3 linked regions of the Homo sapiens genome follow. The protein of the gene in region 1 purifies or fractionates together with the protein of each later gene. This does not show direct contact. Each region holds a gene or a part of one and is shown on either strand. Other genes may lie near its edges.

Region 1 (8,047 bases):
GCGTCCCTAAATGATAGTTATTAGCTTTTGTCTGTATGGACTCTGGAATCAATTTCTTTCCCAATTCCACTTAAAACAGAGACAATAAATTCAAGTATTTCCTCAAGCTGCTGTAGAGTGTCATTTTAAAATGACATTGACTCAACTCCCCTTTCCTTACAACATAATTGGAAAAAAAAAAAAAAAAGCTGGCTGGGCACGGTGGCTCATGCCTGTAATCCCAGCACTTTGGGAGGCTGAGGCGGGCGGATCACGAGGTCAGGAGTTCGAGACCAGCCTGGCCAACACAGTGAAACCCCATCTCTACTAAAAATACAAAAAAGTAGCCAGGTGTGGTGGCGGGTGCCTGCAGTCCCAGCTACTCGGGAGGCTGAGGCAGGAGAATGGCTTGAACCTGGGATGCAGAGTTTGCAGTCAGCCGAGATCGCACCATTGCACTCCAGCCTGGGCAACAAAGCGAGACTCCATCTCAAAAAAAAAGAAAAAAGGCTTCAAGCATTGGCCCTGGGTTCTGCACTCAGATGAGGCTTCAGTGTTCTGCCCAATCTCATGGAAGTTCATTCTCCTGGTGCTGGAGCTGCACACACATGAAGTTGCTGAGCTACCATGAGAAGGGAGCATATAGACAAGATGAGTCTTCCCGGTAGCCTAAAAAAAAGGAGGAAGGTGCTACACTGTGCATCATTTTAAGTGCTCTGCGCCAGCTCTCAATGTCCTACACATTAACTCAATAATCCTGACAACCACCACAATGCATTAGGTAGTATTAGCAAAATGGTTAGGAGAAAAGATTCTGGAGTCAAACCACCTGCATTCCAATACTGACTTCACACTTCACTAGCTGGGTGTCCTTAGGCTAGCTACTTATCCTCTCCAACTCAATGAGAGTCATCTGAAAGCTCAGGATGATATTTAATGCCTATCTCCTGGGGTTATTGTGAGGCTCATGGGTCAAATATTCATAGCATAATGCCTGCCACAAAGTAAGCACTCATTAAATAATGTTGTTATATAGGCAATAGTAATTATCTTGCACAAGATCAAACACCAGTAAGTAGGTAGAAATCCTGGTCTTCTGACTCCAAATTCCAGGCTTTTTCTGTGACCATATGTTACCCTACTGAATGTTTATTTTTCCTTAAATGATTAAAATACCATAGTACGGTTTGTGCTGTTCTAAGAACACTGAAGTATTCTCGCTAATTATACAAACTGCAAAGAAAAGATCACTATTAGCAGAATATAATGCTGTTTCACTTTGCACTGGCTTGAGAAAAAGCCCCCACATAACAGACCATTTCTGAGATTCCCAAGAGCTATACTTTCCAGGAGTTATATACTTCTTTGATACCAAAACCAGTGTCGCACCTGCCAAGGGAAAGGACTGTCAGTTTGACTAGTCTAGAGGCCACGTTACCTTCTCTCTTTTGTGCTAAGTGGTGACAGCCGACTGTTCATCTCCCTTTTAAAGTTGTTCTCTAATATTTTATTTCAAATTCCTCCAAACAAAACAACTTGCAGCTGCAAGTCATGCTAGCTTTCTGGTTCACTGCCTACTTGGGCATAAATAACCAGTACACTGGCTCCTACTTTAACTACCACTAGGCCTGGCACAGTTCCAGGCTCTTTGGGTACTGACGTTGTGGAGTCCATAAAGTTAATTTTCCAGACAAACTTGATTTAACCTGGTATGAACTTCAGACGATGCAGCTCTGGGGAAATTCACACTGACTTTCTCACTTCATTTCAAAATATTTTTTTTAATTGTCAAAAAGAAACATTCATGAACATAGACCATATTCTTTCTGGGTCATAAAACAAAATAAAACATTTCAAAGAATTTAAGTCATATAAACTGAGTTCTCTGAAAATAATGGAATTAAACTAGAAATCAATAACAGATATCTTTAAAAATCACCAAATAGTTGGAAATTAACACACTACAAAAATAACCCATGAGTCAAAAAGGAAGTCACAAGGAAAATATTTTTGGGCCAGGCATGGTGGCTCACATCTATAATCCCAGCACTTTGGGAGCCAATGCGGGAGCATCATTTGAGGTCAGGAGTTCAAGACCAGCCTGGCCAACATGATGAAACCCTGTCTGTACTAAAAATACAAAAATTAGCTGGGCATGATGGTGCATGCCTGTAGTTCCAGCTACTTGGGAGGCTGAGGTGGGAGAATCGCTTGAACCTGGGAGGCGGAGGTTGCAGTGAGCCGAGATCACACTATTGCACTCTAGCCTGGGTGACAGAGTGAGACTCCATCTCAAAAAAAAAAAAAAAAAAAAAAATATTTTGAACTGAATGAAAATGATGATACAACATATTAAGATTTCTGTGATGTATTTAAAGTGGTGCTTACAGGAAAAATTATGGCATTAAATGCTTATATTAGAAGGCGGGGTGCAGTGGCTCATGCCTGTAATCCCAGCACTTTGGGAGGTTGAGGCAGGCAGATTATCTGAGCTCAGTAGTTGGAGACCAGCCTAGGCAATATGGTGAAACCCTGTCTCTACAAAAAACACAAAAATTAGCCAGGCGTGGTGGCACACCTACTTTGGAGGCTGAGGCAAGAGGATCGCCTGAGCCTGGGAGGCAGAGGTTGCAGTGAGCCAAGATCACACCACTGCACTCCAGCCTGGATGACAGAGCAAGACTGTCTCAAAAAAAAAAACAAAAAAAATTCTTCCAAACATTTAAGGAATTAATAATACCAATTTAATGTAAACATCTCTAGAAAATAAAAGGGAAGATAAACACTTCCCAACTCATTTTCTGAGATCAGCATTATCCTGATGCCAAAATTAGCAGATATTACAAGAAAACTATACATCAATATCTCTCAAAACATGAATGTAAAAATTTCCAATAAAATATTACTAATCAAATCCAGCAATACATTAAAATGATAAAATCATAAATAAGTTGGGTTTATCCCAGGAACAAAAGGTTGGTTCAACATCTAAAAATCAATATAATTCACCGTATCAACAGACTACATAAAAACAATTAGGTGGTGCACACCTATAATTCTAGCTACTCAGGCCTGGCAGAAGTGGGAGGATTGCTTAGGCCCAGGAGTTCAAGGGTACAGTGAGCAGTGATAACACTACTGCACTCCAGCCTGGGTGACAGAGCGAGACTCCCTCTCAATTAAAAAAAAAAAAGAAAAGAAAGGAAAAGGAAATGATCACCTCTAGATGAAGAAATGCATTTGATAAAATTCAACATCCATTCATAATTTTAAAAAGCAAACAAAAACACTAAGCAAACTAGGAATGAAAGTGAACTTTCTCAACCTCCTATTAATAAAAGGCTTCTGTGTTAGATACATATGGTTGCATAACAAATTACCCCAAAACATAATAGCAAACATATTTCAGTTTCTAGAGGTCAGGAACCCAAGTATGGCTTAGCTGGGTGCCCCTGGCTCAAGGTCTCTCACAAGATTGAACTTACATTGTCATCTGGGGCTACAATCTCATCTGAAAGCTCACTGGAGTTGGGGTGGTGGGGGAGATCCTCTATCCTCAAAAGGCTACATACGGTCTGATTCCATTTTCATGACATTCTGGAAAAGGCAAAACTATAGAGACAGAAAACAGATCAATGGTTGCCATTTGCAAACAATTTCTGTTCACAGACCACCTCTAGGCCATCCTTGTACTGGGTTTCCAGGGCAGCCACCAGCCCTCTCTCCTCAGCTCCAGGCTCCTTTCTGAACCCTTCCTGGGTTTACATTTAGTAGCATGCTGCTTGACACGGGATTGGCCCCTGTTTCATAGACACTGTGTTAATTTTCTCTCCTCGGGTACTGCTTCCAGGACAAGTACCCGCATTGATGCTGGCACTGGGAACGGGACGGATGATAAAGTGTGAGGCACTCTGCCCAGTGGCAACTGACATGATTTCATAATTTCCCCAGGTCCATCCGCTTCCCGCCAGTGTGCTCAGATTTGAGCAGTAGGAGTCCGTTGGGAGAAAGATGGGGGAAAGGAACCAAAAACAATTAAGGCAGACTCTGTAAGCTTCCACCTCCCACACCAGAAAAGTCCCACAGCAGAAGACTGCCGTGGAACCTTCCCTACTGTAGAGGAAAGTGCTGACTTTAAGCAATTTCTGCAGTCACGCCTTCCTCTTCTTTCCTTTCTCCCTCTCATTCATTCACTGACGCCGCAGCACTGATCAGCACAGACACAGAAGATGCCTCCAAGGGACCAAAGGGAATAACCGCGGTTCTGAGGTGTGGGGACTGCTGTTGCAGGGAAATGTGGACCGCTCAGGAGGGGCTCCTAGCGCAGGCGTCTTGCTCCGCAGACGCGGTTACAGCTGCGCTTTGCACGGCCTGCGGAAGTTTGCAAATCTAGCAGGTCTGCTCTCCCGGCAGCAGGACTCGGCCCGCGGTCAGGACAGCTCCCATGGACGGAGGGCGGCCCTCCGAGGCCTTTCCCTGCAGCCGGGAGGGCGGCCGGGCTGGGCCGGGCCGGGGGTGGGAAGCTGGGGCGCGGCGGCCCCGCCCAGGCAGACCCGGGGCGGGAGCCGGTTCCCATAGGGATCGCGGGCCGAGCCACGCCGAGCCGAGCTGGGCGGAAGAAGGCGAGGCGGGAGCCAGGCCCGTCCCTGACCGCCGCGGCGCCGTGAGTCCCGGGCGGGCAAGGAGGCGCGGGCCGTCCCTGGCCAACACGTGGCACCGCTCCATGCTGCGCGGCGCGGCTGAGGTGCACGTCCGGGCGCGGGAGGGTTTTCCCAGTCCCGGGGGCGTGGGGCGCGGGGCGCGGGTTGGTCTCCTGCGGCCAAGCCTCGCCGCCGCCTCCGCGGGGAGCCGGGAGGTGTCTTCTTGCCGCAGGGAAATGAGACCCGAAATTAGAACCGGGGAAGCCCTTAGCCCTCCCCGTACTCCAGCCAGCTCAGGTGTCTTAGATCGGATGAACGATAACGTTAAAAAGATAGCTTATCTTACAGCTCGGCTCGTTTTAGGATGGCAAGTTACATTTTAACTTACAGGGTATTTAACGGGCGATTAAAATCGGGTTACTGGAGGCAGCTAACTCTAGGCTGTTACTCCTGATCGCGTTGCCATTGCCGACACGGGTACACTCTTCATTCCTTAACATGTGCTGTTCTGTTCTAGGACCGTGACAAACACTCATCGTTGGGTGGGGCTCTAGTGCAGTCCGTTGGTGCCAATATTTTATAAGCGACGTTTTCAAACTATGTGAAGATCCTTTCTTTTCTTTTCTTTCTTTCTTTTTTTTTTTTTTTTTTTTTTTTTTTTGAGACGGAATCTCGCTCTGTCGCCCGGGCTGGAGTGCAGTGGCGCGATCTCGGCTCACTGCAACCTGCGCCTCCCAGGTTCACGCGATTCTCCTGCCTCAGTCTCCTGAGTTGCTGGGACTACGGGCGCCCATCACCACACCCGGCTAATTTTTTGTATCTTTAGTAGAGACGGAGTTTCAGTATGTTGGCCAGACTGGTCTCGAACTCCTGACCTCAGGTGATCTGCCCGCCTCAGCCTCCCAAAGTGCTGGGATTACAGGCGTGAGCCACCATTCTCGGCTGAAGATCCATTTTAAGAAGATTTATTCCTCTATGATGGAGAAGTATGAAAAAATTGGGAAAATTGGAGAAGGATCCTATGGAGTTGTTTTCAAATGTAGAAACAGGGACACGGGTCAGATTGTGGCCATCAAGAAGTTTCTGGAATCAGAAGATGACCCTGTCATAAAGAAAATTGCCCTTCGGGAAATCCGAATGCTCAAGGTAATTGATTCACTTTTCCTTTTTTTTCTTTTTCGAGACAGGGTTTCACTCTGTCTCCCAGGCTGGAGTGCAGCCATGTGATCATAGCTCACAGCAGCCTGGAACTCCTGGGCTCAAGCCATGCTTCTGCCTCAGCCTCCTGAGTAGCTGGGATTACAGGTTCTAGCCACTGCTCCGGGATCCACTTTTTCTTTAAAGTGAATTTTTAGGGATGAAAGAAATAAAGTGAGTCATGTTATGTTAAAAGAATGTCATGGGACATGGTTATATCTTACTTCATAGCCTTTTGACTTCAGTGACACAAATGGGATATCTGTGCACAAGTCACTAATTATATAATGAACTAGAAAGCAGAGACAAAAGTGCCAGGTAAGGTGGCATTCACTTTTAGAGATGCTGTGGGATATTTATTTTTCTTCCCCATAATTTCTCTCCCACCTGTAGACCTGGGTTTTCAAGGACCATTACAATTTGATAGTATAGGAATGTAAGACAATTCAATTTTGCTGGCATTGTTGATTTTTAAACTTCTAAGGTATTTCCTATTGGTATACTCAGTCTATTAAGAGAATTAACATTTACCTGTTTTCAAACTGCTAGGAAGCTCACAGATTCTCATTACACCTCATATGTATTTACTGCTGAGCATCATCATGTCCCGTTTCTAAAAAGAAGCGTTTTTCTTAAAGAAGTGAAATGATCACTTTCTAATTTTTTTTAACATTTTTTAGAGATGGGATCTTGCTATGTTGGCCAGGCTGGTCTCGAGTTCCTGGCCTTAAGTGATCCTTCCACCTTGGCCTCCTAAAGTGGTGGGATTACAGGCATGATCCATCGAGCCTGGCCTGATCACTTTTCAAATGTTTATTAGTTAACCCTAAAAATAACATGATATCAGAGGGGGGAAAGGTATTTATTACAAGCTGAAAGTGTGTTTTTCGCTAATGGAGAGACTACTTTACAGAACTTCTGTGAAGGTAAAATCCAAATCGCAATGTGAAAGGTGACATGTAATGAATATGGTGGAGGTCAACTTTGTTTCAGTTATGGCCTCTCTGTTCTGACCTGTATAACTACTATGTGACAAGGGAAGAGCTACTTGATGAGAGACAGATGAATGAAACTTCCAGGGGATTTACTATTATTCTTGCTTCTCCATTTTCTCCAGATCACTCTACAAATCTTGTGCCCATGGATAAGTGTGTGGGGTCACTTCTAGATAAGGAACCTAAATGGAAAGTAGCAAGCTTTGGATAAATTGGAATGGGTGGGTAACAGGGCAACTTCTCTATTTAGGTTTGGAATGTTCTTAACCAACAGGATATTATCTATTGAGAGGAGATGCTTCCAAAGCCCCGCAGGGGAGTGCTCCCATGGGCAGGGGTGAGACCTGCAGTGTTTTGACCATCCCCCTGCCCGGGTCACCCTACCCTTACCCTCTCTGTACACAGGGAGAGGCTGTTGGGCATTTTCACTTCCTCAGGCTTTCCCAGGGGAGGAGGTGATCATTACATTTCAAAGGGTTCATTTACCTGAAAGAAAATCTGTTTCTTGCAGAAAGATACTCTTTTTCTGATTCTGAAGATTACTTTTGTGAATGCTCCTTTCAAATCTCTCACTACACTTTATCAATACTACATTAACAGTGATAGCTCCCCAAATTCATTGAGTTCTTCTGGGATGGAGACCTTGCCTCTGTAGCTCTATATCCCCAAAGCACACTAGTTGGCACATCTAGGCCTCCAAAAAATGTCATTGTTGGATTGGAAAAAAAAGTTAACAAAATAAACTCTTAACAAAGGTGGATGTTGCCAATAAATGGGGAAGTCAAATGTGTTCTCTTATCTGAATATTGATATCCTCCAAAGGATGGGGTTGTGTACACATGAGCCTGATTTCAAAGCATGCAGCACCCCACTCTCCAAATTAAGTGCACAGATGTAGACACCACTGATCTCTATGAAATGGTGGGACTAGATTATAGGTAGAGTCTGTTCTTTAAAGCTGTAACTTTTCAGAGTTGTGTGATATTCCTAACACATAATACGTACTAGGCTGGGCATGGTGGTGCGTGCCTGTGGTCCTAGCTACTAAGGAAAGAGGCCAAGGCAAGAGGATGGCTTAAGCCCAGCAGTTCAAGGCTATGGTGAGCTATGATTAGGCCACTGTATTCTATCTAGCCTGGGTGACAGTGAGACCCTGTCACTTATAAAATAAAGATACTTAATAAATATTTGTTGAGTAGGTGAATTGAGGGTATGGTAAATGAACATTTTATTTTC
Region 2 (7,378 bases), on another chromosome or scaffold:
ACCCTCCGCCTTCCAGGTTCAAGCGATTCTCCTGCCTCAGCCTCCCCAGCAGCTGGGATTACATGCATATGCCACTACGCCCGGCTAATTTTGAATTTTTAGTAGAGACGGGGTTTCTCCATGTTGGTCAGGCTGGTCTTGAACTCCCGACCTCAGGTGATCCGTCCGCCTGGGCCTCCCAAAGTGCTGGGATTACAGGCATGTGCCACCTTGCCCCACCTCACTTGTCCCCTTTTTGTGTAGTGTTCTTCATCCGGTTAGAATATCTTCCTCCCTCACTTCATATTCCTTGTTTTTTCACTTTATTGTACACTTACCACTTCTTGAAAAGCTCTGTATCTTACTTTTTAAATTGTGTTGTTTCCTGGTCTAGAATATAAGTTCTACGGGAGCAGGAATTTTTGACTGACTTGTATACTCCTGTCTTTTCAGTGCCTAAAAAAGTGCCTGGCACATAGTTTGTGCTCAATAAATATTTAATAAATATGTGAATGAAATGGGAAAGTATTTCGATGTAGAAAGCATTATCAGTTTTTTATACCAAAGGTATAACCATCTTGAAAGTGGATCTTTTTGTGTTCTCACTCTTACAAATGGCTTGATTATTTAAACATAGTGAAGATCAGTTTCTCTTTGGTGTCTGTAATTTATTTATTTATTTATTTTTGTTTTCTCAAGCCTAGGGAGCTGGTTTGAGCAATCTCAGGGTAAAAGAAAATGATTAGTTCTCAGAACATCAACATTGTATGTATTATCTTGGAAGATGGGTTAAGATCAAATTGAAAAATTACCGGAAAAAAATTAAGATGGCAGTTATGTATAGATTTTCATTTCTTTTTCCTGTGTGGTTTTAATGATAAGTAGTACAGGCTTTTAGGACTGGTACGATTTTTCTATGTCGTAGAACCCTTTTGTAAATACTTTTGGTATTATGGTGTGTGTTTCTAGATATTAACCATAAGAACTTAATTCTGGTTGTTAATTAATTAGACTCTTGAAATATATACTTACAGCTGAAGGGGGTCTTCCCAACTCTTCATTAGATCTTCCTAATCTCATTGGGATATAGCATTAATTCTGAGTGTACCGAGAATGAAATACCATTAAATTGCATTTTCTTACTTTGCAAAAAACCCTCACAGAATGCTAACTCATTACTTCAGAAAATAAATGAGATTTTGAATTACTTGATAAGTTGACTTTAAGCCTTTTCCCCCTTATTGTAGGTCCATATACTTTTGTTCAGCAACATCTTATGATTGGCACAGATCCTCGAACAATTCTTAAAGATTTATTGCCGGAAACAATACCTCCACCTGAGTTGGATGATATGACACTGTGGCAGATTGTTATTAATATCCTTTCAGAACCACCAAAAAGGAAAAAAAGAAAAGATATTAATACAATTGAAGATGCTGTGAAATTACTGCAAGAGTGCAAAAAAATTATAGTTCTAACTGGAGCTGGGGTATGTAAGACTAGTACATGGGGAGGTCGTATATGTATTTTCTTATGCCTTTTCCAAGTAGGAAACATTTTTCTGGTTTAGAAGGATTTATCCTTACATGATAATGGATGTTTGGGAACTGCCAAAAACTGAGTGCAGCAGCAGTTGCTAAATTAGTTCAGATTTTTAAAACCTCTCCAGCCTTAAAAAAATATTTGCTTCTGCTTATTTATAGCACAGTGGGTAAATGGAGTTAAGGCAAGATTTCTACCTACATTATATCATAGCTCCTAAAGGAGATGCAGGGAATTGAAACTCTGCTTTTGTTAAGGGATGTCAGTCTGATGGAGAAATTGGGTATTTGTTAGATCTTTATGAGAAACTGGAAACCTAATTGGTATTCACAAGTGAAAAGCTTAGTGTTGGGAAGAGTAACAGATTCCTACCTTCCCTCCATATTAATTAAGATGATGTGATTGTGGCGACTTGACATTTTCTATTTGATCTACCTTAGGGTTGCAGCTAATTAGTTACCTAAGACTATTGCATAGTGTGTGTTTTATACAGAGTATATTACATGTTAGCAACCAGAGCAACTGCTGTAGTAAAATTTTGTCCTGTTTTCTGCCATTTCGAGTTGCGAAAGGGTGTTACATAATCTTAGATGATCATCAGGAGTATGTTTTGCTCACAGATAACGATGTAGACAAGTTTGTTTAACTTAAATTGACCTTGACTCCAGGTCAAATTGGAGTCAACTCTGGTAAGATGATGAAACAATAACTTCTGAAATCTCTATTTGAAATGTCAGGATTTTTTTGTACGATTAGTGGGCACGTCTCAAAGAAATGAAGAATTGAAATATTATACACCTTTTTTTTTTTTCTTTTTTTTGGATACAGGGTCTTGCTGTGTTGCCCTGGCTGGAGTGCAGTGGTGTCATCATGGCTCACTGCAGTCTCAGCCTCTCCTGGCCTGAGTCTTGCTCTGTTGCCTAGGCTGGAGTGCAGTGGCAGGATCTTGGCTCACTGCAACCTCTGCCTCCTGGGTTCAAGCAATTCTCTTGCCTCAGCCTCCTGAGTAGCTGGGATTACAGGCGCACACCACCACACCTGGCTAATTTTTGTATTTTTAGTAGAGATGGGGTTTCACCATATTGGCCAGGCTGGTCTGAAACTCCTGACCTTGTGATCCGCCTGCCTTGGCCTCCCAAAGTGCCAGGATTACAGGCGTGATCCACCGTGCCTGGCTATACATTGTTTTTTTTAATGAAAATAGAGAATTGTTGTAGTATTGAGGTAATAGAATCCTAACTAAAGGAGCAATTTCTTTGGAATTACTTCTCTGTAATAGAAATTCTTGGCTGGTGGAGTGGCTCATGCATGTAATTCCAGCACTTTGGGAGGCTAAAGTGGGAGGATCACTTGAGCCCTGGAGTTTGAGATCACCCTGAGCAACATAGACCCTGACTCTACAAAAAATTAGCCTGGTGTGCTGGTGCGTACTTGTAGTCCCAGCTGCTAAGGAGGTTGAGGTGGGAGGATTGCTTGAGCCGGAAAGGTTAAGGCCATAATGAGCCATGATGGCACCACTGCACTCCAGCCTGGGCGTCAGAGCGAAACTGTCTAAAAAGAAAAAAAACAAAAAGCCGGGCGCGGTGGCTCACACCTGTAATCCCAGCACTTTGGGAGGCTGAGGCCTGCGGATCACGAGGTTAGGAGATCGAGACCATCTTGGCTAACATGGTGACACCCCGTCTCTACTAAAAATACAAAAAATCAGCCGGTCGCGGTGGCAGGCACCTGCATTCCCAGCTAATCAGTAGGCTAAGGCAGGAGAATGGTGTGAACCCAGGAGGCGGAGCTTACAGTGAGCCGAGATCGCACCACTGCACTCCAGACTGGGCGACAGTGTGAGACTCTGTCTCAAAAAAAAAAAAAACAAAAAAAAAAAGAAAAAATTCTTCCCTACTTAAAATAATTTGTTGAAATGGTTTATTTTCTTCTCAAGTTGCATTTGCTTTAATTTGTTGGCTAAATGCTTAAAAGGCTTAAAATTGGCCTGACTTAAAAATTCCTTATCTGTGTTAAAGATGGAATATGAGGTATGTTTAATTTTACTCAGTTATTTGGGAGTTTTATTTCTGAAATAAGGGTAGGGTTGTATTTTTATTTCTTAAAAGAAGTTTCAGACTAAAATTTTCTTTCTCAACTCTTACCTAATTATATGGTAAGAGAGCTAGCTAGTTCCTATAAAGGTAGAAGATTTAATTTTACAAATTATGCCATGCACATTTTAGGTGTCTGTTTCATGTGGAATACCTGACTTCAGGTCAAGGGATGGTATTTATGCTCGCCTTGCTGTAGACTTCCCAGATCTTCCAGATCCTCAAGCGATGTTTGATATTGAATATTTCAGAAAAGATCCAAGACCATTCTTCAAGTTTGCAAAGGTACTATGAACTCTTCTGGTTGTTTCTTTGGCCTTCTCTCATGAAAAAGTATTTTGTTCACATACAGCCACCTTAAGGTTATCGTTCATTGTTTAGTAAAGTGAATGCTGCTACTGTGGCGGAGTAAGATCACTCATTATGGCTAGAATTCCTTTATTCCTAGAGGAGGACTATTATCTACTTCATTTTAGGAGTGAGCTTATTTTCAAAGAGATAGTTCATATTTTTAAAATTTGCACTGCAGCGATGGTCGTTATTCTGCCTGGGCTTTTTTAAGAGGTTTGCACACCATATAAAAGTAACATAACTTGTGATTTTTAATATTTTATTAGAGATTGTAAAGGTTATAACATCACTTTGGTGTTTCGTAGTCAAGTTTTAACATAAGGATGTGCCTGAAAAATCATTTGTAATTAGAGAATGGGAAGATTCTTGGGTTGCATTTTTGTCAGCAAATTGCAGAGGATCATTATTCTGCTCTAGAGTTGCACCGTCCAGTTCAGAAGCCACTAGCCACATGTGGCTGTTGAGTACTTGAAATGTATTGATATGTGCAATAAGTGTAGAAGACATATTGGATTTTAGAGATCCAGTATGGAAAATACAAAGTATTTCATTAGTTTTATTCATCAAATATTAAACAAATATTGGTTTTTATATGGAAAAAATACTTAAAATTAATTTTGAATTCTTTTGAAATACTTTTGATATTGGGTTAAATAAAATGTATTTTGGGCTGTGCGTGTTGCCTCATGCCTGTAATTTCAGCACTTTGGGAGGCCAAGGTGGGAGGATCAGTTGAGCCCAGGAGTTTGAGACCAGCCTGAGCAACATAATGAGACTCCATCTCTACAAAATAAATAATAAAATTTGCTGAGCATGGTGGTGTGCACCTGTAGACCCATCCACTCAGTAGTCTGAGGTGGGAAGATCCCTTGAGCTCAGGAGCTCAAGACTGAGTGAACCATGATCTGCCATTGCACTCCACCCTGGGCAACAGAGCAAGAGTGTTTCCAAAATATATGTATGTTTTTTGAAGTTTACTTTTTTTTTTTTTCTTTTTTTGAGAAGTAGTCTTCCTTTGTCCCCCAGGCTGGAGTGCAATGGCATGATCTTGGCTCATAGCAACCTCTGCCTCCCAGGTTCAAGTGATTCTCCTGCCTCAGCATCCTGAGTAGCTGGGATTACAGGCGCCCGCTACCATGCCCAGCTAATTTCTGTATTTTTAGTAGAGACAGGGTTTCACCAGGTTGGCCAGGCTGGTGTTGAACTCCTGACTTCAGGTGATCCACCCTCCTCGGCCTCCCAAGGCTCTGGGATTATAGGCGTGAGCCACCGCGCCTGGCCAGTTTTCACCTTAATGTGGTTACTAAACAATTTAAAGTTATATGTATGTCTCACATTATGTACCTATTGTACAGCTCTGCTTTAGCATAGAAAGTTTAATAATGCATTACACCATTCTCAAGAGATTGAGTCATTAGAAAACTGTTTTCTTTCCTGTATTTCAGTCTTTTGGAAAGAAATTACAAAATTTGTTATTGTTAAACTTGGAGGTATATATATTTGAAAGAGTCATTTTATTTTATTTTACTTTAAGTGCCGGGATACATGTGCAGAATGCGCAGATTTGTTAACATAGGTATACATGTGCCATGGTGGTTTGCTGCATCTATCAACCTGTCATCTAGGTTGTAAGCCCCACATTCATTAGGTATTTGTCCTAATGCTTTTCCACCCCTTGCCCCCCACCTCCTGACAGGCCTCTGTGTGTGGTGTTCCCCACCCTGTGTCCATGTGTTCTTATTGTTCAACTCTCACTTATGAGTGAGGACATGTGGTGTTTGGTTTTCTGTTCTTGTGTTAGTTTGCTGAGGATGATGGCTTCCAGCGAAGGAGTCTTGTATTAGTGGCTTTTTCCCCACCTAATCGTTAGAAGTTGTGAATAGGGACTTCTTTAATGAATCCAGAAGTTAATGAACCTAGCTTTTTTTTTTTTTTTTTTGGAGACGGAGTCTGGCTCTGTTTCCCAGGCTGGAGTGTAGTGGTGTGATCTCTGCTCACCATACAACCTCCACTTCCCGAGTTCAAGAGATTCTCCTGCCTCAGCCTTCCGAGTTGTTGGGACTACAGGCGCGTGCTGCCATGCCTGGCTAATTTTTGTATTTTTGGTAGAGACGGGGATTCACTATGTTGGCCAGGTTGGTCTTGAACTCCTGACCTTGTGGTCCGCCCATCTCAGCCTCCCAAAGTGCTGGGATTACAGGTGCGAGGCACCGCGCCCCGCGCCCTGCCGATGAACCTAAATTTTAACTAAACAGTGGCCTTATCTACTTTCAGACCATGTGGTATATTTACATGACTACAGGAGAAGCTTTGCTAATTCAGAATAAATTATGTTACTTAAATTGGCGACTGTCTTTAAAAAAAAAGTGATTTTTTGGATGCAGTAGCTCGTGCCTATAATCCCAGTGCTTTGGGAAGCTGAGATAGGAAGATCTCTTGAACTCCGGAGTTTGAGACCAGCCTGCGCAACACAGTGAGACCCTAATCACTACACCCCTCCACCCCATGTAACTTTTGTTTTATCCAGGTTGTGGTATATTAAATGGGCATTAGTGTAAAGTGGGAAAATTATATTAATTCTTGAATATGATTACTAAACTGAATTTGAAAAGTTTTCAGGCTATCAAGAGAATTTTTAACTTAAAACTTATATAATTTGAACTTTTTACTTCATATATCCGTAATGATGATGGTCATCTATATCTAGCTTTTAGAGCAGACAACTGGTTCATACCTGGATTAAATAAATAATGTAAAGTTATTTTTTGTTAATTATGGATTAGTGAAGATTTACTGTTTTAACCTACTCCTGCTAGTGGCACTACTGCATGGTTTTGAAGACCAGTGAAGTATGACTTAAAGGTTTCTTGAATTGGAGCTAGGACACTGGCATTTATAAAATCTCCACGTAGCGCAGACATTGACACTATCAGAAGACCAGCAAGTAACTAGAAGTTACTTTGATCTTAAATCAACTACAAAAAACTTGACTCACTAGTTATGGAGAATACATTTTTTATTGTTAAACTGAAAAAAAATTCAGTCACTTATAAGGTGTAGCCTCTTCTAATCCTGTTTATATAAATTTATTTATTATTATTATTTTTTGAGATGGAGTCTTGCTCTGTTGCCAGGCTGTAGTGCATTGGCGCGATCTCGGCTCACTGCATCCTCCACCTCCCGGGTTCAAGCAATTCTCTTGCCTCAGCCTCCCAAGTAGCTGGGACTACAGGCACGTGCCATCACGATCAGCACTTTTAGTAGAGACGGGGTTTCACCATGTTGGCAAGGACGTGTCTCGTCGTGACCTCGTGATCCGCCCGTTTCAGCCTCCCAAAGTGTTGGGATTACAGGTGTGAGCCACAATGTCCAGCTGATAAATTTAATTTTGCTTTTCTGAGTTTTCATTTATG
Region 3 (8,310 bases), on another chromosome or scaffold:
CCAGGCTGTCTGGAACTCCTGGCTCAAGCAGCCCTCCCACCTTGGCTTCCCAAAGGGCAGGGATTACAGGCATGAGCCCCGACACCAGCCCCTCTGCCCCTTTTATCCTTTCCCATGACCCCTCCAAGTAGCCATAGCCCTGCCCAGGCCCGTCTGTGATTTGGACTCTAGGAGACATTGAGTTTGGACAACACTGGCTACCTTCCTTTCCTTATCTTCTCTGTAGACTCCCTGCCCTCGGACCCTGTACAGCCGCAGTATGGGGCATGGCTCAGCCTGGTGGACCGTGCCCAGGTGAAGGCTTTTGTGGATCTAACCCTCTCACCCTCCGTGCGCCAGGGGGCTCAGCATCTGCTGCGAATCTCCGGCCTCGGTGAGCTGCTTCTCCCTGGATGCCCTCGGCCTTCCTCTGTGGCCACTTCAAATCTCCGCTCCCCTCCCCTAGAGAGTCAGCCACAGATTGCAAACTGCAAAAGGACCTTATAGTCGAGAGGAGATAAGACAGTGCTCAAAGATAATAGCCTCAGACAGTGTGTGATAAGGTCTAATAGGAGATGCTAGGGACTAGTGATGGGGTGGGCGATGTTGTGGGTTTTTTTTCCTTCTTCTTTTTTTTTTTTTTTTTTGAGACGGAGTCTCACTCTGTCTTGCCCAGGCTGGAGTACAGTGGCACGATCTTGGCTCACTGCCTCCTCCACCTCCCAGGTTCAAGTGATTCTCCTGTCTTAGCCTCCCAAATATCTGGGACTATAGGCATGTGCTACCATACCTGGCTAATTTTTGTATTTTTAGTAGAGATGGGGGTTTCACCATGTTGCCCAGGCCAGTGTCGAGCTCCTGACCTCAGGTGATCTACCCGCCTCGGCCTCCCAAAGTGCTGGGATTACAGGCATGTACCACTGTGCCCAGCCTTTCCTTCTTTTTTTTTCTGATCCAAAAATTGGGGCATAGGCACTGAAGAGTGTATTTTTGGAGACAATGGAGCATTATTTGAATCTCCAGCTGCCTCATCAAATCAGATGGTTTTTAACCACCAGTGTTCAGAGGAAGGCAGGCCAGCCACTATACACTGATGTGGCCAGCAAAGGTTTTGCGGAGAGATGGTAATTCATCCAGACTTTGAAAGAGGTTGGGATGTAGGAGATGTAACATGTCTCCCCTGCCCCCGCCACCCAAAGCCACAAAGGATGCCGGAGGCTGTGTGGGGCGGACGTCTGTGGATGGAGCGGTAAATTCTCAGCTTTTAGCGCTGAGGCCACCAGGGTTATCTATGCTCAGTCACTGCCTTTTCCCTTAATCCTGGACCAGTGCCCGTCACCAAAGTGCATGCTTCCTTCTCTATTCAGAGTCTGGCTAAAGTTCAACAGTGTTGGACATTGCCCAGTTCAGTGTAAATCAGAACCCTGGGAAATACTGAGGAGGGGGCATGACTAGTTTATTTTGCAAGATCAGCTGGAATTCACACCTGCGGAGATGTTTTGGGGTGTCGTCAAGCATCATTGACCCACAGAACATCTGAGAGCCTGGTCTTCACTTTTTGTGCAGAGACCACAATGCTTATGAAATACGAAATTTTTCCTGTGGAAGATATCAGGTCGGTGCAAAAGCAATTGCGGTTTTTGCCTTTTTTTTTTTTTTTTTTTGGACAGGGTCTCACTCTGTTGCCCAGGCTGGAGTGCAGTGGCACAATGTCAGCTCACTGCAACCTCTGCCTCCCGGGTTCAAGTATTCTCCCATCTCAGCCTCCCAAGTAGCTGGGACTACAGATATACGCCAGCATTGTCCGGCTAATTTTTGTATATTTTTGGTAGAGACGGGGTTTCACCATATTGCCCAGGCTGATCTCGAACTTCCAACCTCAGGTGATCCGCCTGCCTCAGCCTCCCAAAGTGCTGGGATGCCATTTTAATGGGGGAAAAAAAGAACCACAATTACTTTTGCACCAACCTATTCCAATAAAAGGAAAAGTAGTTCCTTTAAATGGTGGATTCTCCTGTCATAGAAAATTTGATTTATGGCTTGAGCAGTGTTTGTTTCATGAGAAGGGGTCTTGGAAGAGGTCTCTGCGTCTCCCTGTAAACTCAGCAATTATCCGATTCCACAAGGGTTGTTCAAAAATTAAGAACGAAGAGCTTGTCAGCAGGGACTTGGAGCATTGTGGTTGCCACGTGCCCAGCTCGGTGGCTCAGAGTGTGGCCTCTCACGCTGGATGGAGGCGGATTGCGTTGACCTACCTGCCCCAGTACCTACCAGATATGAGCCTATGGGCAAGTGACTTCATCCCTTGGTGCTTTGGGCTCCTTATCAGTAAAAAGAGGAGACTAAATATTACCTACCTCATAGCATTACTTCGAGTTTCAAATAAGTTAAAATATAAAGTGCTTTCTACAGGACATAGCCCCTGGTAAGCGGATACCATGCAATGAACCACCATGATTAGGGTTTTGGTAAAACCTACTAGGGTTAGGGTTTACTGCAGTAAACATACGGGGTAGCCCTGTTTCTTTTTTTCTTTTTTTTTGAGATGGAGTCTCGCTCTGTTGCCCAGGCTGGAGTGCAGTGGCGTGATCTCGGCTTACTACAACCACCACCTTCCGGGTTCAGGCAATTCTCATGTCTCAGCCTCCTGAGTAGCTGGGATTATAGATGCCCACCACAATGCCCGGCTAATTTTTGTATTTTTAGTAGAGATAGCATTTCACCGTATTGGCCAGGCTGGTCTCAAACTCCTGATCTCAGGTGATCAACGTGCCTCAGCTTCCCAAGATGCTGCGATTACAGGTGTGAGCCACGGTGCCCTGCCTGGTCCATTTTTTCATCTTCCCATTGCAGAGTCTGGGACGCTATTACCCTGGGGATTCAGGTCATGAGCTTGGCTGATCAGGGTGTCTGGTTTGCACAACAGAGTCAAACTCGCATCCCCTGCCGTGAAACAGATGCCCCGCTAGAAGCCGGGAGTGGACAGCATCCTCCTCTCCATAGAATTGGAGTGCTCATTAGTGGCAAGAATCCTAAGGCGAACTTTGCCTGTTTAAGTGGAGGAGATTAGTCACTGAGATAATAAAATAAATGCATGTGAAAGTGTTTAGGAAAAATGAAAAGTCTTTATGCAAATATGCAGAATGTTGCCGTAAGAGCCCGTACACAGTGGGAATGTCATACCTATGGCTGACGCACCTTGCTGTCAGTGTGTGGGAGCGTGGTGTAAACTTAGCCTGTGAGCCTGACTCCTGTCTGTTCCTGCCTTCCCCGCTCTGCCCCCAGGTGGCATGAAGCCCAACACGTTGGTCCTAGGTTTCTACGATGACGCTCCACCGCAGGACCATTTCCTGACGGACCCGGCTTTCTCTGAGCCTGCAGACAGCACCAGGGAGGGCAGTTCCCCAGCTCTGAGCACCCTGTTCCCTCCTCCCCGGGCTCCTGGGAGCCCCCGGGCCCTCAATCCCCAGGACTATGTGGCCACGGTGGCCGACGCCCTCAAGATGAACAAGAATGTGGTGCTGGCCCGGGCCAGCGGGGCCTTGCCCCCTGAGCGGCTGAGCCGGGGGTCTGGGGGCACCTCTCAGCTGCACCATGTGGACGTGTGGCCCCTCAACCTGCTGCGGCCCCGGGGTGGGCCCGGCTATGTGGATGTCTGCGGCCTCTTCCTGCTGCAGATGGCAACCATCTTGGGCATGGTGCCCGCTTGGCATAGCGCCCGGCTCCGGATCTTCCTGTGCCTGGGGCCTCGGGAGGCGCCTGGGGCGGCCGAGGGGCGGCTGCGGGCACTGCTGAGCCAACTGAGGATCCGGGCTGAGGTGCAGGAGGTGGTGTGGGGCGAGGGGGCCGGGGCTGGGGAACCCGAGGCGGAGGAGGAAGGGGACTTTGTGAACAGTGGGCGGGGAGACGCAGAGGCAGAGGCCCTGGCACGCAGCGCCAACGCCCTGGTTCGGGCCCAGCAGGGGCGCGGCACAGGAGGAGGGCCGGGTGGGCCGGAGGGTGGGGATGCTGAGGGCCCCATCACAGCCCTCACCTTCCTGTACTTGCCTCGGCCGCCAGCCGATCCCGCCCGATACCCCCGCTACCTGGCGCTACTGGAGACTCTAACCCGAGACCTGGGCCCCACGCTGCTGGTTCATGGGGTCACTCCAGTCACCTGCACTGATCTGTGATGCCCCTGCCTCCAGGGCTAGGTAGAGAGGGCCCAGGCAGGCGGCCTATCCTGATCCTTGGAGGAGGAGGAAGAGGAGGCCACTGTGGCCCGTGGCCCTGCCCTTGGGACGTGGAGCCCAGGGGAGGTTTGAAGGGGATCCTGGGCTTGGGCATCACGCCCACCTCCTTTGGCAGAGGGACCCCAGCACACTAACTCTGGGTGGCTGTCCCCACCGTGCAGGGGAGGGAGTCCGCAGCCTCCCTTCACTGGTGCCTTGATGCTAGGGGCCAGGCCTCCTCTGTGACTCTGGGCTACCTCAGTTTCCCCATTTTGGCCAGACTCACCGGCCCACTGGGGTGGTGATGTTTTCGTTCTGTTTTATTTTTCTAACTCTGCTGACCATGAATAAAAGACCAAAACACTACAGGCTGGCTGAGCAGTGCTGGTGGGTAGCTGAGAGGGAGGGGGTGGGAATGGAGAGCTCTGCAGAGGGGTGGAGATCGGAGCCTTCAGCCTCCCGCCGCGAGGCTGCCACGTGCAGGGCTGGGGTGCGGGGCCCGGACGCATCCGTGGACTTGGAGGCTGGCTCGGGCCCGCACCTCCCATCCCCAGCTGCCCGCAACCCCCAGTGACTCGGGATCCCCCGGAGAGCCCTCCCCTCTCGGCAGGAGGGGGCTGACTCAGGGAGAAATGGCAGTTTAGGGCCTAGGGGGCCACGTGACCCTCCCCCAGGAATGTGGTGACGTCATCGGAGGCGTGGTCGTCCCCAAAATTAGGGAGGAAGAGGAAAAAAAAAAGCCAGAAAAAGTTTTCTTTTCTGGAGTCCCAAACGAGGTGCGGGACGGAAGAGGGGGTGAAGGCCAGAGGCTCGGGGCTTCAAGACCGCTGTCTGGAGTCCCCCTTTCCAGGCCATGTCGGGGCCCACCTGGCTGCCCCCGAAGCAGCCGGAGCCCGCCAGAGCCCCTCAGGGGAGGGCGATCCCCCGCGGCACCCCGGGGCCACCACCGGCCCACGGAGCAGGTAAGGCAGCCCTTGTGAGACAGAAGAGCCACCCAGCTGTGGCGCTCACCTCTGTCCTACCGCTCCAGCCTCCCGCCCTGGCTGCTTCCTCCTGCCCCTTCCCCAAGCCGAGGCGGGGGGAACAGCCGCCTGCGCTCTCTTGGGACCCTAGATTTGGGGGAGGAGGTAACGAGAGGCGGAGAGGGTGGCTCCTCAAATATACACCCCTCCTGTCCTCCGCCACCCCACCTTTGATTTCTCTTCCCTCAACCCAGCACTCCAGCCCCACCCCAGGGTCAATTTTTGCCCCCTTCCATCTGAGCAGTGTTACCAGGCCCCAGGGGGACCGGAGGATCGGGGGCCGGCGTGGGTGGGGTCCCATGGAGTACTCCAGCACACGCAGGTGAGACCCGGGATCGTGGGGTGGGACATGTGGGATCCCCCAGAACCGAGTCTGAGGGACCCAGGACAGGAGAAGGCCTATGGTGATTTGCATTCTTCCTGCCCTGGCTCCATCCTCAGGGGCTCCCTGCAGACAGGGGGGGCCTTCGCCCTGGAAGCCTGGACGCCGAGATAGACTTGCTGAGCAGCACGCTGGCCGAGCTGAATGGGGGTCGGGGTCATGCGTCACGGCGACCAGACCGACAGGTGACTCTGCCCCTCCTCCCCGTCAGCACCCTGCCCCCTTCTCTGGACTCTCAGACCCAGCCTGATCGATCCCCCATGTGTGTAATGTGCACCCCAGCATGGAGGAAGCGTGGCTGCAAGTACCAACATGTCAGCCACTTGAGGACGGGACCTTGTCAAATGCAAAAAGCCTGTGCTTCCCCACAGCCAGGGTCATTTCCACAAATGTGGGTCTTGGAGTGGGGTCCTTGCTTACGACTTCTGGCCTGCGTTTCTCCTCAGGCATATGAGCCCCCGCCACCTCCTGCCTACCGCACGGGCTCCCTGAAGCCAAATCCAGCCTCGCCGCTCCCAGCGTCTCCCTATGGGGGCCCCACTCCAGCCTCTTACACTACCGCCAGCACCCCGGCTGGCCCAGCCTTCCCCGTGCAAGTGAAGGTGGCACAGCCAGTGAGGGGCTGCGGCCCACCCAGGCGGGGAGCCTCTCAGGCCTCTGGGCCCCTCCCGGGCCCCCACTTTCCTCTCCCAGGCCGAGGTGAAGTCTGGGGGCCTGGCTATAGGAGCCAGAGAGAGCCAGGGCCAGGGGCCAAAGAGGAAGCTGCTGGGGTCTCTGGCCCTGCAGGAAGAGGAAGAGGAGGCGAGCACGGGCCCCAGGTGAGCCCTGGGGAACTGGGATTTCAGGCCCTACAGACAATGGGACACCGACTGGGTGGGGTGGCTGGTGGTGTTTTAGGGGGCTTTTTTGTTTTTTGAGACAGAGTTTTGCTCTTGTTTGCCCAGGCTGGGGTGCAGTGGTGCCATCTTGGCTCACTGCAACCTCTGCCTCCCGGGTTCAAGTGATTCTCCTGCCTCAGCCTCCTGAATAACTGGATTACAGGCACACGCTGCCACGCTTGGTTAATTTTTGTATTTTTAGTACAGACGGGGTTTCACTAAAACCCCAGTTTGTTGGCCAGGCTGGTCTCGAACTCCCGACCTCAGGTGATCCGCCTGCCTCAGCCTCCCAAAGTGCTGGGATTGCAGGCCTGAGCCACCGCGCCTGGCCAAGGGGCTGGTTTTGGAGCAGAGTCAGAGGTCTGGGACGTGGAATAGGTAAGGGCAGGGCAGTGCGGGGGAGCAGGATAGAACTGCCCATTGGGGCTGAGCGCGGTGGCTCATGCCTGTAATCCCAGCACTTTGGGAGGCTGAGGTGGGTGGATCACCTGAGGTCACGAGTTCGAGACCACACTGACCAACATGGAGAAACCTCGTCTCTACTAAAAATACAAAATTAGCCAGGCATGGTGGCACATGCCTGTAATCCCAGCTACTCGGGAGGTTGAGGCAGGAGAATCACTTGAACCTGGGAGGTGGAGGTTGCGGTGAGCCGAGATCGCACCACTGCTCTCCAACCTGGGCAACAAGAGCAAAACTCTGTCTCAAAAAAAAAAAAAAAAAAAAAAAAGAACTGCCTACGGGCCCCTGGGCTGAGATGTTCTCAGATGAGCTTTCTAGCTGGAACTGCCTGGCCACCTTCAGAGACATTATAGCAGTCCCCAATCTTTTTGGCACCAGGGACCAGTTTTGGGGAAAACAATTTTTCCATGGACTGGGGAGGGGGATGGGAGGGGGTGGGAGGGGGATGGTTTCAGGATGATTCAAGCACATTACATTCATTGTGCACTTTATTTCTGTTATAATAATAATAGAATATATAGTATATATAATTGTTTCGGTATATATTACAATGTATATTACAATGTAATATATACCGAAACAATTATACAATTCACCATCATGTAGGATCAGTGGGAGCCCTGAGCTTGTTTTCCTGCAACTGGACAGTCCCATCTGGGGGTGATGGGAGACAGTGACAGATCATCAGGCATTAGATTCTCATAAGGAGCTTGCAACCTACATCCTTCGAACACACAGTTCACAATAGGGTTCATGCTCCTATGAGAATCTAACGCCGCTGCTGATCTGACAGGAGGTGGAGCTCAGGCGGTAATGCAAGTGATGGGGAGCAGCTGTAAATACAGATGAAGCTTTGCTTGCCCATTGCTCAGCTCCTGCTGTGTGGCCCAGTTCCTAACAGGCCATGGCCTGGCGGCTGAGGGCCCTGGTATTACAGCATCAGGAGCTAGAGTAGGACCGAGCCCGATTCCCACCTTCCAGGTGCCCCTGAGCCAGCCTCCAGAGGATGAGCTGGATAGGCTGACGAAGAAGCTGGTTCACGACATGAACCACCCGCCCAGCGGGGAGTACTTTGGTGAGCTGAGGCTGTGGGGTGGGTGGGACGTGGGAAGGGAGGCTGGGAGACAGAGGGGACAGTGGCTTCCTGGGTCTGTGAAGACTGATGCTGTTTCTCCCTGTCCTCAGGCCAGTGTGGTGGCTGCGGAGAAGATGTGGTTGGGGATGGGGCTGGGGTTGTGGCCCTTGATCGCGTCTTTCACGTGGGCTGCTTTGTATGTTCTACATGCCGGGCCCAGCTTCGCGGCCAGCATTTCTACGCCGTGGAGAGGAGGGCATATTGCGAGGGCTGCTACGTGGTGAGTGGCTGGGGCTGGGAG

The links. The genes of interacting proteins can lie anywhere in the genome.
Region 2: the proteins of CDKL1 (region 1) and SIRT1 purify together in Homo sapiens (affinity purification with mass spectrometry; 4 studies listed by BioGRID and IntAct, with this or other methods). This does not show direct contact.
Region 3: the proteins of CDKL1 (region 1) and TRIP6 purify together in Homo sapiens (affinity purification with mass spectrometry; 3 studies listed by BioGRID and IntAct, with this or other methods). This does not show direct contact.

Annotation. Positions count from the first base shown.
Region 1 is NC_000014.9:50,393,419-50,401,465, reverse strand, and holds the start of CDKL1 (cyclin-dependent kinase-like 1), read left to right. Parts: upstream 1-4,584; 5' UTR 4,585-4,642; exon of another isoform or gene 4,643-5,136; 5' UTR 5,137-5,594; coding exon of another isoform or gene 5,595-5,597; coding exon 5,598-5,765; intron 5,766-8,047.
Region 2 is NC_000010.11:67,887,656-67,895,033, forward strand, and holds part of SIRT1 (NAD-dependent protein deacetylase sirtuin-1), read left to right. Parts: intron 1-1,226; coding exon 1,227-1,468; intron 1,469-3,746; coding exon 3,747-3,899; intron 3,900-7,378. UniProt on the Homo sapiens protein: NAD-dependent protein deacetylase that links transcriptional regulation directly to intracellular energetics and participates in the coordination of several separated cellular functions such as cell cycle, response to DNA damage, metabolism, apoptosis and autophagy.
Region 3 is NC_000007.14:100,862,455-100,870,764, forward strand, and holds the start of TRIP6 (thyroid receptor-interacting protein 6), read left to right. Parts: upstream 1-4,932; 5' UTR 4,933-5,043; coding exon 5,044-5,152; intron 5,153-5,406; coding exon 5,407-5,534; intron 5,535-5,581; exon of another isoform or gene 5,582-5,653; coding exon 5,654-5,779; intron 5,780-6,040; coding exon 6,041-6,412; intron 6,413-7,915; coding exon 7,916-8,009; intron 8,010-8,119; coding exon 8,120-8,289; intron 8,290-8,310. Other genes in the region: SLC12A9 (solute carrier family 12 member 9), read left to right, coding at 227-373, 3,265-4,151. UniProt on the Homo sapiens protein: Relays signals from the cell surface to the nucleus to weaken adherens junction and promote actin cytoskeleton reorganization and cell invasiveness. Involved in lysophosphatidic acid-induced cell adhesion and migration.